2 separate regions of the Homo sapiens genome follow, and region 1 is linked to region 2. Evidence: fine-mapped expression QTL. A gene starts in region 2. The other region holds a variant in brackets. All regions are shown on one strand. Distances are between the middles of the regions.

Region 1 (5,375 bases), 95 kb after region 2:
GATATTCTAATTTTTTTTAAGATTTATACCTAAGTGTTTCATTCTGAGGGGTGCTAATGTAAATGGTATTGTGTTTTTAATCTCAAATTCCACTTGTTCATTGCTGGTATATAGGAAAGTGATTGACTTTTGTATCCTGCAGTCTTGCTGTAATCACTGCCTGGTTTCAGTTTTTTGATTTTCTTCTTGGATGATCATGTCATCTGCAAACAAAGACAGTTTTATTTTTCTTTTTATTTCTTGCCTTATTTCATTAGCTAGGACTTCCAGTCCGGTGTTGGAAAGAGTGGTGAGTGGGGATATCCTTGGCTTATTTCTGCTCTTAGTGGGAAAGCTTCTAGTTTCCCACTGTTAAGTATGACGTTTGCTGTAGGTTTTTTGAAGATACTGTTTATCAAGTTGAAGATGTTCTCCCCGGCCAGGCGTCGTGCTTCACGCCTGTAATCCCAGCGCTTTGGGAAGCCGAGGAGGTCAGATCATTTGAAGTCAGGAGTTTGAGACCAGCCTGGGCAACATGGGAAACCCAATTTCTATGAAAAATACAAAAATTAGCCAGGTGTGGTAGCACGCACCTGTAATCCCAGTTACTTGGGAGGCTGAGGCAGGAGTATCGCTTGAACGTGGGAGGCGCAGGTTGCAGTGAGCCGAGATTACGCCACTGTACTCCAGCTTGGATGACAGAGCGGGACTCTGTCTCAAAAAAAAAAAAAAAAAAAAAAGCAGTCTGACAGCTTTGAAGAGAGCAGTGGGTCTCCCAGCACGCAGCTGGAGATCTGAGAACCGGCAGACTGCCTCCTCAAGTGGGTCCCTGACCCCTGACCCCCGAGCAGCCTAACTGGGAGGCACCCCCCAGCAGGGGCACACTGACACCTCACACGGCAGGGTATTCCAACAGACCTGCAGCTGAGGGTCCTGTCTGTTAGAAGAAAAACTAACAAACAGAAAGGACATCCACACCGAAAACCCATCTGTACATCACCATCATCAAAGACCAAAAGTAGATAAAACCGCAAAGATGGGGAAAAAACAGAACAGAAAAACTGGAAACTCTAAAACGCAGAGCGCCTCTCCTCCTCCAAAGGAACGCAGTTCCTCACCAGCAATGGAACAAAGCTGGATGGAGAATGACTTTGACGAGCTGAGAGAAGAAGGCTTCAGACGATCAAATTACTCTGAGCTACGGGAGGACATTCAAACCAAAGGCAAAGAAGTTGAAAACTTTGAAAAAAATTTAGAAGAATGTATAACTAGAATAACCAATACAGAGAAGTGCTTAAAGGAGCTGATGGAGCTGAAAACCAAGGCTTGAGAACTACGTGAAGAATGCAGAAGCCTCAGGAGCCGATGCGATCAACTAGAAGAAAGGGTATCAGCAATGGAAGATGAAATGAATGAAATGAAGCGAGAAGGGAAGTTTAGAGAAAAAAGAATAAAAAGAAATGAGCAAAGCCTCCAAGAAATATGGGACTATGTGAAAAGACCAAATCTACGTCTGATTGGTGTACCTGAAAGTGATGGGGAGAATGGAACCAAGTTGGAAAACACTCTGCAGGATATTATCCAGGAGAACTTCCCCAATCTAGCAAGGCAGGCCAACGTTCAGATTCAGGAAATACAGAGAATGCCACAAAGATACTCCTCAAGAAGAGCAACTCCAAGACACATAATTGTCAGATTCACCAAAGTTGAAATGAAGGAAAAAATGTTAAGGGCAGCCAGAGAGAAAGGTCGGGTTACCCTCAAAGGGAAGCCCATCAGACTAACAGCGGATCTCTCGGCAGAAACCCTACAAGCCAGAAGAGAGTGGGGGCCAATATTCAACATTCTTAAAGAAAAGAATTTTCAACCCAGAATTTCATATCCAGCCAAACTAAGCTTCATAAGTGAAGGAGAAATAAAATACTTTACAGACAAGCAAATGCTGAGAGATTTTGTCACCACCAGGCCTGCCCTAAAAGAGCTCCTGAAGGAAGCGCTAAACATGGAAAGGAACAACTGGTACCAGCCGCTGCAAAATCATGCCAAAATGTAAAGACCATCGAGACTAGGAAGAAACTGCATCAACTAATGAGCAAAATCACCAGCTGACATCATAATGACAGGATCAAATTCACACATAACAATATTAACTTTAAATGTAAATGGACTAAATTCTCCAATTAAAAGACACAGACTGGCAAATTGGATAAAGAGTCAAGACCCATCAGTGTGCTGTATTCAGGAAACCCATCTCATGTGCAGAGACACACATAGGCTCAAAATAAAAGGATGGAGGAAGATCTACCAAGCAAATGGAAAACAAAAAAGGCAGGGGTTGCAATCCTAGTCTCTGATAAAACAGACTTTAAACCAACAAAGATCAAAAGAGACAAAGAAGGCCATTACATAATGGTAAAGGGATCAATTCAACAAGAAGAGCTAACTATCCTAAATATATATGCACCCAATACAGGAGCACCAAGATTCATGAAGCAAGTCCTGAGTGACCTACAAAGAGACTTAGACTCCCACACATTAATAATGGGAGACTTTAACACCCCACTG[T/C]CAACATTAGACAGATCAACGAGACAGAAAGTCAACAAGGATACCCAGGAATTGAACTCAGCTCTGCACCAAGCAGACCTAATAGACATCTACAGAACTCTCCACCCCAAATCAACAGAATATACATTTTTTTCAGCACCACACCACACCTATTCCAAAATTGACCACATAGTTGGAAGTAAAGCTCTCCTCAGCAAATGTAAAAGAACAGAAATTATAACAAACTATCTCTCAGACCACAGTGCAATCAAACTAGAACTCAGGATTAAGAATCTCACTCAAAGCCGCTCAACTACATGGAAACTGAACAACCTGCTCCTGAGTGACTACCGGGTACATAACGAAATGAAGGCAGAAATAAAGACGTTCTTTGAAACCAACGAGAACAAAGACACAATATACCAGAATCTCTGGGACGCATTCAAAGCAGTGTGTAGAGGGAAATTTATAGCACTAAATGCCCACAAGAGAAAGCAGGAAAGATCCAAAATTGACACCCTAACATCACAATTAAAAGAACTAGAAAAGCAAGAGCAAACACATTCAAAAGCTAGCAGAAGGCAAGAAATAACTAAAATCAGAGCAGAACTGAAGGAAATAGAGACACAAAAAACCCTTCAAAAAATCAATGAATCCAGGAGCTGGTTTTTTGAAAGGATCAACAAAATTGATAGACCGCTAGCAAGACTAATAAAGAAAAAAAGAGAGAAGACTCAAATAGACACAATAAAAAATGATAAAGGGGATATCACCACCGATCCCACAGAAATACAAACTACCATCAGAGAATACTACAAACACCTCTACGCAAATAAACTAGAAAATCTAGAAGAAATGGATACATTCCTCGACACATACACTCTCCCAAGACTAAACCAGGAAGAAGTTGAATCTCTGAATAGACCAATAACAGGAGCTGAAATTGTGGCAATAATCAATAGTTTACCAACCAAAAAGAGTCCAGGACCAGATGGATTCACAGCCGAATTCTACCAGAGGTACAAGGAGGAACTGGTACCATTCCTTCTGAAACTATTCCAATCAATAGAAAAAGAGGGAATCCTCCCTAACTCATTTTATGAGGCCAGCATCATTCTGATACCAAAGCCGGGCAGAGACACAACCAAAAAAGAGAATTTTAGACCAATATCCTTGATGAATATTGATGCAAAAATCCTCAATAAAATACTGGCAAACCGAATCCAGCAGCACATCAAAAAGCTTATCCACCATGATCAAGTGGGCTTCATCCCTGGGATGCAAGGCTGGTTCAATATACGCAAATCAATAAATGTAATCCAGCATATAAACAGAGCCAAAGACAAAAACCACATGATTATCTCAATAGATGCAGAAAAAGCCTTTGACAAAATTCAACAACCCTTCATGCTAAAAACTCTCAATAAATTAGGTATTGATGGGACGTATTTCAAAATAATAAGAGCTATCTATGACAAACCCACAGCCAATATCATACTGAATGGGCAAAAACTGGAAGCATTCCCTTTGAAAACTGGCACAAGACAGGGATGCCCTCTCTCACCACTCCTATTCAACATAGTGTTGGAAGTTCTGGCCAGGGCAATTAGGCAGGAGAAGGAAATAAAGGGTATTCAATTAGGAAAAGAGGAAGTCAAATTGTCCTTGTTTGCAGATGACATGATTGTATATCTAGAAAACCCCATTGTCTCAGCCCAAAATCTCCTTAAGCTGATAAGCAACTTCAGCAAAGTCTCAGGATACAAAATCAATGTGCAAAAATCACAACCATTCTTATACACCAACAACAGACAAACAGAGAGCCAAATCATGAGTGAACTCCCATTCACAATTGCTTCAAAGAGAATAAAATACCTAGGAATCCAACTTACAAGGGATGTGAAGGACCTCTTCAAGGAGAACTACAAACCACTGCTCAAGGAAATAAAAGAGGATACAAACAAATGGAAGAACATTCCATGCTCATGGGTAGGAAGAATCAATATCGTGAAAATGGCCATACTGCCCAAGGTAATTTACAGATTCAATGCCATCCCCATCAAGCTACCAATGACTTTCTTCACAGAATTGGAAAAAACTACTTTAAAGTTCATATGGAACCAAAAAAGAGCCCGCATCGCCAAGTCAATCCTAAGCCAAAAGAACAAAGCTGGAGGCATCACACTACCTGACTTCAAACTATACTACAAGGCTACAGTAACCAAAACAGCATGGTACTGGTACCAAAACAGAGATATAGATCAATGGAACAGAACAGAGCCCTCAGAAATAACGCCGCCTACCTACAACTATCTGATCTTTGACAAACCTGAGAAAAACAAGCAATGGGGAAAGGATTCCCTATTTAATAAATGGTGCTGGGAAAACTGGCTAGCCATATGTAGAAAGCTGAAACTGGATCCCTTCCTTACACCTTATACAAAAATCAATTCAAGATGGATTAAAGATTTAAACGTTAGACCTAAAACCATAAAAACCCTAGAAGAAAACCTAGGCATTACCATTCAGGACATAGGCATGGACAAGGACTTCATGTCCAAAACACCAAAAGCAATGGCAACAAAAGACAAAATTGACAAATGGGATCTAATTAAACTAAAGTGCTTCTGCACAGCAAAAGAAACTACCATCAGAGTGAACAGGCAACCTACAAAATGGGAGAAAATTTTCGCAACCTACTCATCTGACAAAGGGCTAATATCCAGAATCTACAATGAACTCAAACAAATTTACAAGAAAAAAACAAACAACCCCATCAAAAAGTGGGCGAAGGACATGAACAGACAATTCTCAAAAGAAGACATTTATGCAGCCAAAAAACACATGAAAAA
Region 2 (5,375 bases):
TGATTGCTCCTATCCACAGAATCTCTGACACTAGCTCTTTGTACCCAGGAATTGCTTAAGGTATTTTTCAGATCCTGAATTCCCACAAAACAGCTGATGCCAAACTGTCTAGGGATCCCCACCAGGAAGGGCACAGTGGCTCACGCCTGTAATCTTAGCACTTTGGGAGGCCAAGGTGAGAGGATCGCCTGAAGCCCGGAGTTTGAGACTAGCCTGGGCAACAAAGTGAGACCCTGCTTTACAAAAAAAAAATTTTTTTAAATAAATAAATAAAGACCTCCACCAAGAAACAACACTGGAATGAAGTTTCTTCATCTCCCTGTCCCATGACTTCACCTCTCACTTCCTGACCAATCAGAAATCCCCACACTTTAGCCCATTGCCCCTCCAGACTTCTTAAAAATGCCATCTCTAATCTCTTGGGGAGGTGGATTTGAGGATTGCTCTTGTCTCCTCATTTGGCTGCCACTTGATTATGGAACTCTTTATCTGCTGCAACTCCTATTCTTTCTGTTACCGCACAATGGACAATCGAACCTGATGGTCCTATAACAATCTTTCTTACAGAAATTGCTAGTACAGAAAGAATCCAGGTTCAAATAATCAAGGCAAATCTTTGGCGAATAATATTAAGTTTTGGTTAAAAAAAATCCCAGCTATGTCTTTTCTCAGTGTTAAGTATTATACATGTGTACATTTTGAGTTTGTTTCCTTACCGAGAATAATTAATCTGAACTTCCTAAATTTATAAAAGTTTACTATTGATAAGCTAATATTAACATTACATTGTTTAAGATCCTGAAAAATGTGAATTTGTTCAACAAAACTGAATCATTCTCACATTTAACAGTAATTGTTTCTTTGTGCCTTAAACTATTAATAATTTCTATGATCTGTAGATAACTTAAAACTTAGTATTAAATTGAGCTAATTAATGGATACTTCTTGGATGCCTAGATATGTTCTTGCATAATTTTATGTTTACATCGTTTTGCTTATTTTTATATGCTACAGAGACTACAACTCTGAGTCACAGTAATGATGTGTTCATGTTTGCCACTTGTCAGCGTGTGTAAAAATGGTTGTGGTGGCTTTATACAGTTGTGTTCTATCGCGCCTTTTGCAGCAACATGGATGCATCTGGAGGCCATGATCCTAAAAGAATTAACGCAGAAGCAGAAAACCAAATACATGTTCTCACTTGAAAGTGGGAGCTAAGCATTGGGCACACATGGACACAAAGGTGACATTAATAGACGCTGGGGACTACTAGAGTGGGGAGGGAGGCAGGGAGGGGCTGAAAAACTTGGGTACTATGCTCAGTATCTGGGTGACCAGCTCATTCGAATTCGAAACCTCATAGCCAGGTAACAAATACGCAGTGTACCCCCTAAATCTAAACGTTGGAATTATTTTTTAAAAGAAAGTTATGTTCCATGTATTTCTAAGCTTACTCTCCTAAAATGGTTGAATATTACAGTTCTCAATTATTTATCTCCATGTAGAAGGATGACAGGGACTGTGCGCTAGTGCCAGCCTCCGCTGAGAGCGCCAAGACATTACAGCAAGCGACGGTAGGAGAGCTTGTAACGTGAAGCACCACCACACCTCTGTACTTCAAACTTAACCACAGAGACCGACTCCCAAACCAGCAAGTGCGTAAGCGCCGCCGCGCTCACCACCCGCCCCGCCCCTTCCGCATGCTAATGCCTTCTTCCGGCAGCCTTAGTTTCTTCCAACCAGTGCAGCTCCCTGTTCCGCGAGCATACGTCATCGTTCTCGCTTTCCGGTAGCTAAGGCGATCAGCGGGACTTCCCACTGAGACGAGCGGATGTCATATTGTATCAGGGCGAACCTCTGAGGAGCGCTGGCTGCGCTTAGGCAACGGTGCGGCAGGCGCCGGGGTTTTCTGAAACAGAAACGTTTAGGGGTGGGGAAACGTGTTCCGAGGAACTCTCGTTTTGAAGTGCGACATACACCTGTCTTGCCCTGTTCCAAGATGGTGGCAGAGCTTCTCTGAGTCTCTCGCTTCCTCCAGTCCGTCGGAGAAGCGCTCTTTGATTGGCCAGTGGACAGCGCCGTGGCATGACGCGCTGGGGCGCTGGCCAATCGGTTGAGAGCTGAGCTGGACTTGGCGGTGGGAGCCGGAGCCTGCTTGTTGCAGCTGTGGGTGAGGACGGCTCTAGCTAGGTGAGCGGCTCCGGCCAGGTGAGCGGGGCGCATAGGTGACGGAGGGCCGAGGGCACGGGTATGAGTTTCTGCCGGGGGCGAGGTGAGCGGCTTCTGGGAGGAGGCCTTTTCTTGACAGTTTAGGGTAGCGGGGGAATGGATGATCCGGGAGTCCCCTGCGGATGTCGTCCCGCACCAGGCCGGGACCGATTTCTGGCTCCAGTTTCCCCAGAATTGCGGAGTGCGCACACCTGGAAGGACCCAAGTCCCGTTTTATAGTTGAGAAACTCAAGACTCAGACAAGTGAAACGACTTTTGCTTCATGACAGCTGGAACTGGAACCCAGGTCCTTGGACTCCCTTCAAGGATTAAACCTCACTTATTCTTACATACACATGGTCACTGTGTCCTGAGAAGTTACGAGTTGGCGCGATAAGGGTGGTTCAGATTTTTTGGCATATTCTCCTGTTATCTTTCCAGGCCTTTCATTCATTCACTAATTCATACTTTCAGTTATTTACCTCTTCAGATACCTTCCCCGATACTTTGGTAAAAGCTATGGACCCATCTCCCTAGAAAAACGGCATATTCCCTCATGCGCATAACTTCAGATGATTAGTGGACCTTCTATAGTCCCCTTGGATTATGTGTCCACTGCTAAGAATCCAGACCCTAGAAGGGTGAGGGAAACAGGCAGTAGGAAAAGGAGGGAGCAGGTCTTAGGCTGTACATGCTTGGAAACCATTAGATGGAGGCAGTAGCTTCTTTTTTTTTTTTTTTTTTTTTGAGATGGAGTCTCGCTCTGTCGCCCAGGCTGGAGTGCAGTGGCGTGATCTCGGCTCACTGCAACCAATGCCTCCCAAGGTCAAGCAGTCCTCCCTGCCGCAGCCTCCCGAGTAGCTGGGATTACAGGCACCTGCCACCACGCCCAGCTAATTTTTGTATTTTTAGTAGAGACGGGGTTTTGCCATGTTGGCCAGGCTGGTCTTGAATTCCTGACCTCAGGTCATCCACCGGCCTCGGTCGCCCAAAGTGCTGGGATTACAGGCGTGAGCCACCGCGCCCGGCCGCCAGTGCCTTTTAATAAAGAACGTTTTGAGAGAGAGACGGTTATTTAATGAAATCTGCTGACATACTTGCTGAGAGTTGTGATAGAACTTGCTTTCATTCCGACTTTAGTTATCCCTTTGCTTCCCATGAAGCTCCAGAGTGCTTCCTGTGCACACAGTGCTTCAGGTTCTTGCCGTTGCCAGAAATAAACAGATTTCTTAGAGTTTCAGTTGGAGCAAACATTGGAATTCTTGTGTTCTGGGCTTTATGTAGTAGAGTAATTCATTTGCTTTTCTAGCCATGCAATATTATTGCCTTAATCAAAATTATTTACAGTATGGTACTTCCCAAAATAACAGACAGTTGTTATCCATATTCAGGAAGTGGGCGCGAGAGGCCACTTTAATTTGATAGACTCTTTAATTTGCCTTTTTACTACTTTTCTTGAGGGGCTTGTTCCCTTGAACCCCAATAGCTGAGTTGTGTGTTACCCTAGATTTTAGGATATGAACAGGATGTATAAATACTCAATGAAGTTGGGATCATCTGGGTTTGAGAGTTTAGCCTGTAGGACAGTTTTACTGACCACAGTCTTCATTTTTTTTTTGAAACAGAGTCTGGCTCTGTCGCCCAGGCTGTGCAATGGCATTGTCTCGCCTCACTGCAATCTCTGCCTCCCGAGTTCAGACGATTCTCCTGCCTCAACCTCCTGAGTAGCTGGGACTATGGGCACGTGCCACCACACCTGGCTAATTTTTGTATTTTTAGTAGAGACGGAGTTTCACTGTGTTGGCCAGGCTGGTCTTGAACTCCTGACCTCGTGATCCGCCCATCTCAGCCTCCCAAAGTGCTGCGAGTATAGGTGTGAGCCACCACACCTGGCCTTGACCACAGCCTGTCAAGGCATGAACATAAGCAACCGTGGTGAGGAAAGAGGTTCTGGTGAGACTCAGCATAATAGTAATTTTGGTAATACCAAGTAGAAATAATTTAGCTCAAAACTGGTTCCCATTATGAACCAAACTTGAAGATCAGTATCCAGCTCTTTTCTCCAAAGTTAACAAAGTGCGGAAGGGAATGAGCACCCCCCCGCTACTGAAAAAAAAATCACTTGGAATGTAAAATTTAATAGAGGAAGAAAGGAAGGAGATTAGAGAGGAAGATAGTTGGATGCCGAAACAGGGTTCAAGACTTACCCTTGAGCAAGGGGCTGAAATTGGCTTGACTGATAGGACGTGTGATCTGTGAGGAGGTTTGAAGTAGTAGTGTTTAACTACATGTAGTTTGGAGATGATCAGGTGATTGTAAACCTCCCACTCCTTTGATTTATTTTTAAGTGCTTGAAAGGAGAGGTGAGAAAGGAGCAGTGATCAATGATAACTGTGCGGTTAACTGACTTTTGGGTATCAGATGGAAAAGAAATACTGTCATTCTACAGCAACAGGTTCTTCCCAAGTATTTAAGAAACACTGTGTTAGTTGGGCCGGGTACAGTGGGTCACGCCTGTAATCCCAGCACTTTGGAAGGCCAAGGCGGGTGGATCACCTGAGGTCAGGAGTTTGAGACCAGCCTGGCCAACATGGTGAAACCCTGCCTCTACTAAAAATACAAAAAATTAGCCGGGCTTGGTGGCACAGGCTTGTAATCCCAGCTACTTGGGAGGCTGTGGCAGGAGAATCGCTTGAACCCGGGAGGTGGAGGCTGCAGTGAGCTGAGATGGGAAAAAAAGAGAAACACTGTGTTACATGACCCATCTTCTTTTTTTGACATTTAGTTCAGAATTTCACATACCATTAAGGTAATTAAAGTTTTATCTTCAGTTCCCTTTTAGACTATGGCGACATACCTGGAGTTCATCCAGCAGAATGAAGAACGGGATGGTGTGCGTTTTAGTTGGAACGTGTGGCCTTCCAGCCGGCTGGAGGCTACAAGAATGGTTGTACCCCTGGCTTGTCTCCTTACTCCTTTGAAAGAACGTCCAGACCTACCTCCTGTACAATATGAACCTGTGCTTTGCAGCAGGCCAACTTGTAAAGCTGTTCTCAACCCACTTTGGTATGGATTCTTTTGAAACTGGTAAAAATGATAAATACAATATATTATGAATTTTATGTGATGCTCATAAAAGTCATTAAATTTGGGCAGGTCATCAAATT

Evidence for each region. PIP is the estimated chance that this variant, and not a neighbour inherited with it, causes the effect. A credible set is the group of variants that fine-mapping cannot tell apart.
Region 1: its variant is the best candidate, but not a certain one, in a credible set for the expression of SEC23B in CD4 T cells (BLUEPRINT, PIP 0.81).

Annotation. Positions count from the first base shown.
Region 1 is chr20:18,600,802-18,606,176 of GRCh38, forward strand. All of the region lies in intron 3 of DTD1 (D-aminoacyl-tRNA deacylase 1), which reads left to right. Among named protein-coding and RNA genes, the nearest start is that of DTD1, 15 kb to the left of the region's middle. The variant T/C (reference allele first, on the strand shown) is at 2,545.
Region 2 is chr20:18,505,783-18,511,157 of GRCh38, forward strand. SEC23B (SEC23 homolog B, COPII component) reads left to right here and starts at 2,158. Exons shown (of 20, transcript NM_006363.6): 1 at 2,158-2,190; 2 at 5,040-5,274. The coding sequence starts at 5,054. RefSeq lists enhancers at 1,699-2,028, 2,379-2,428.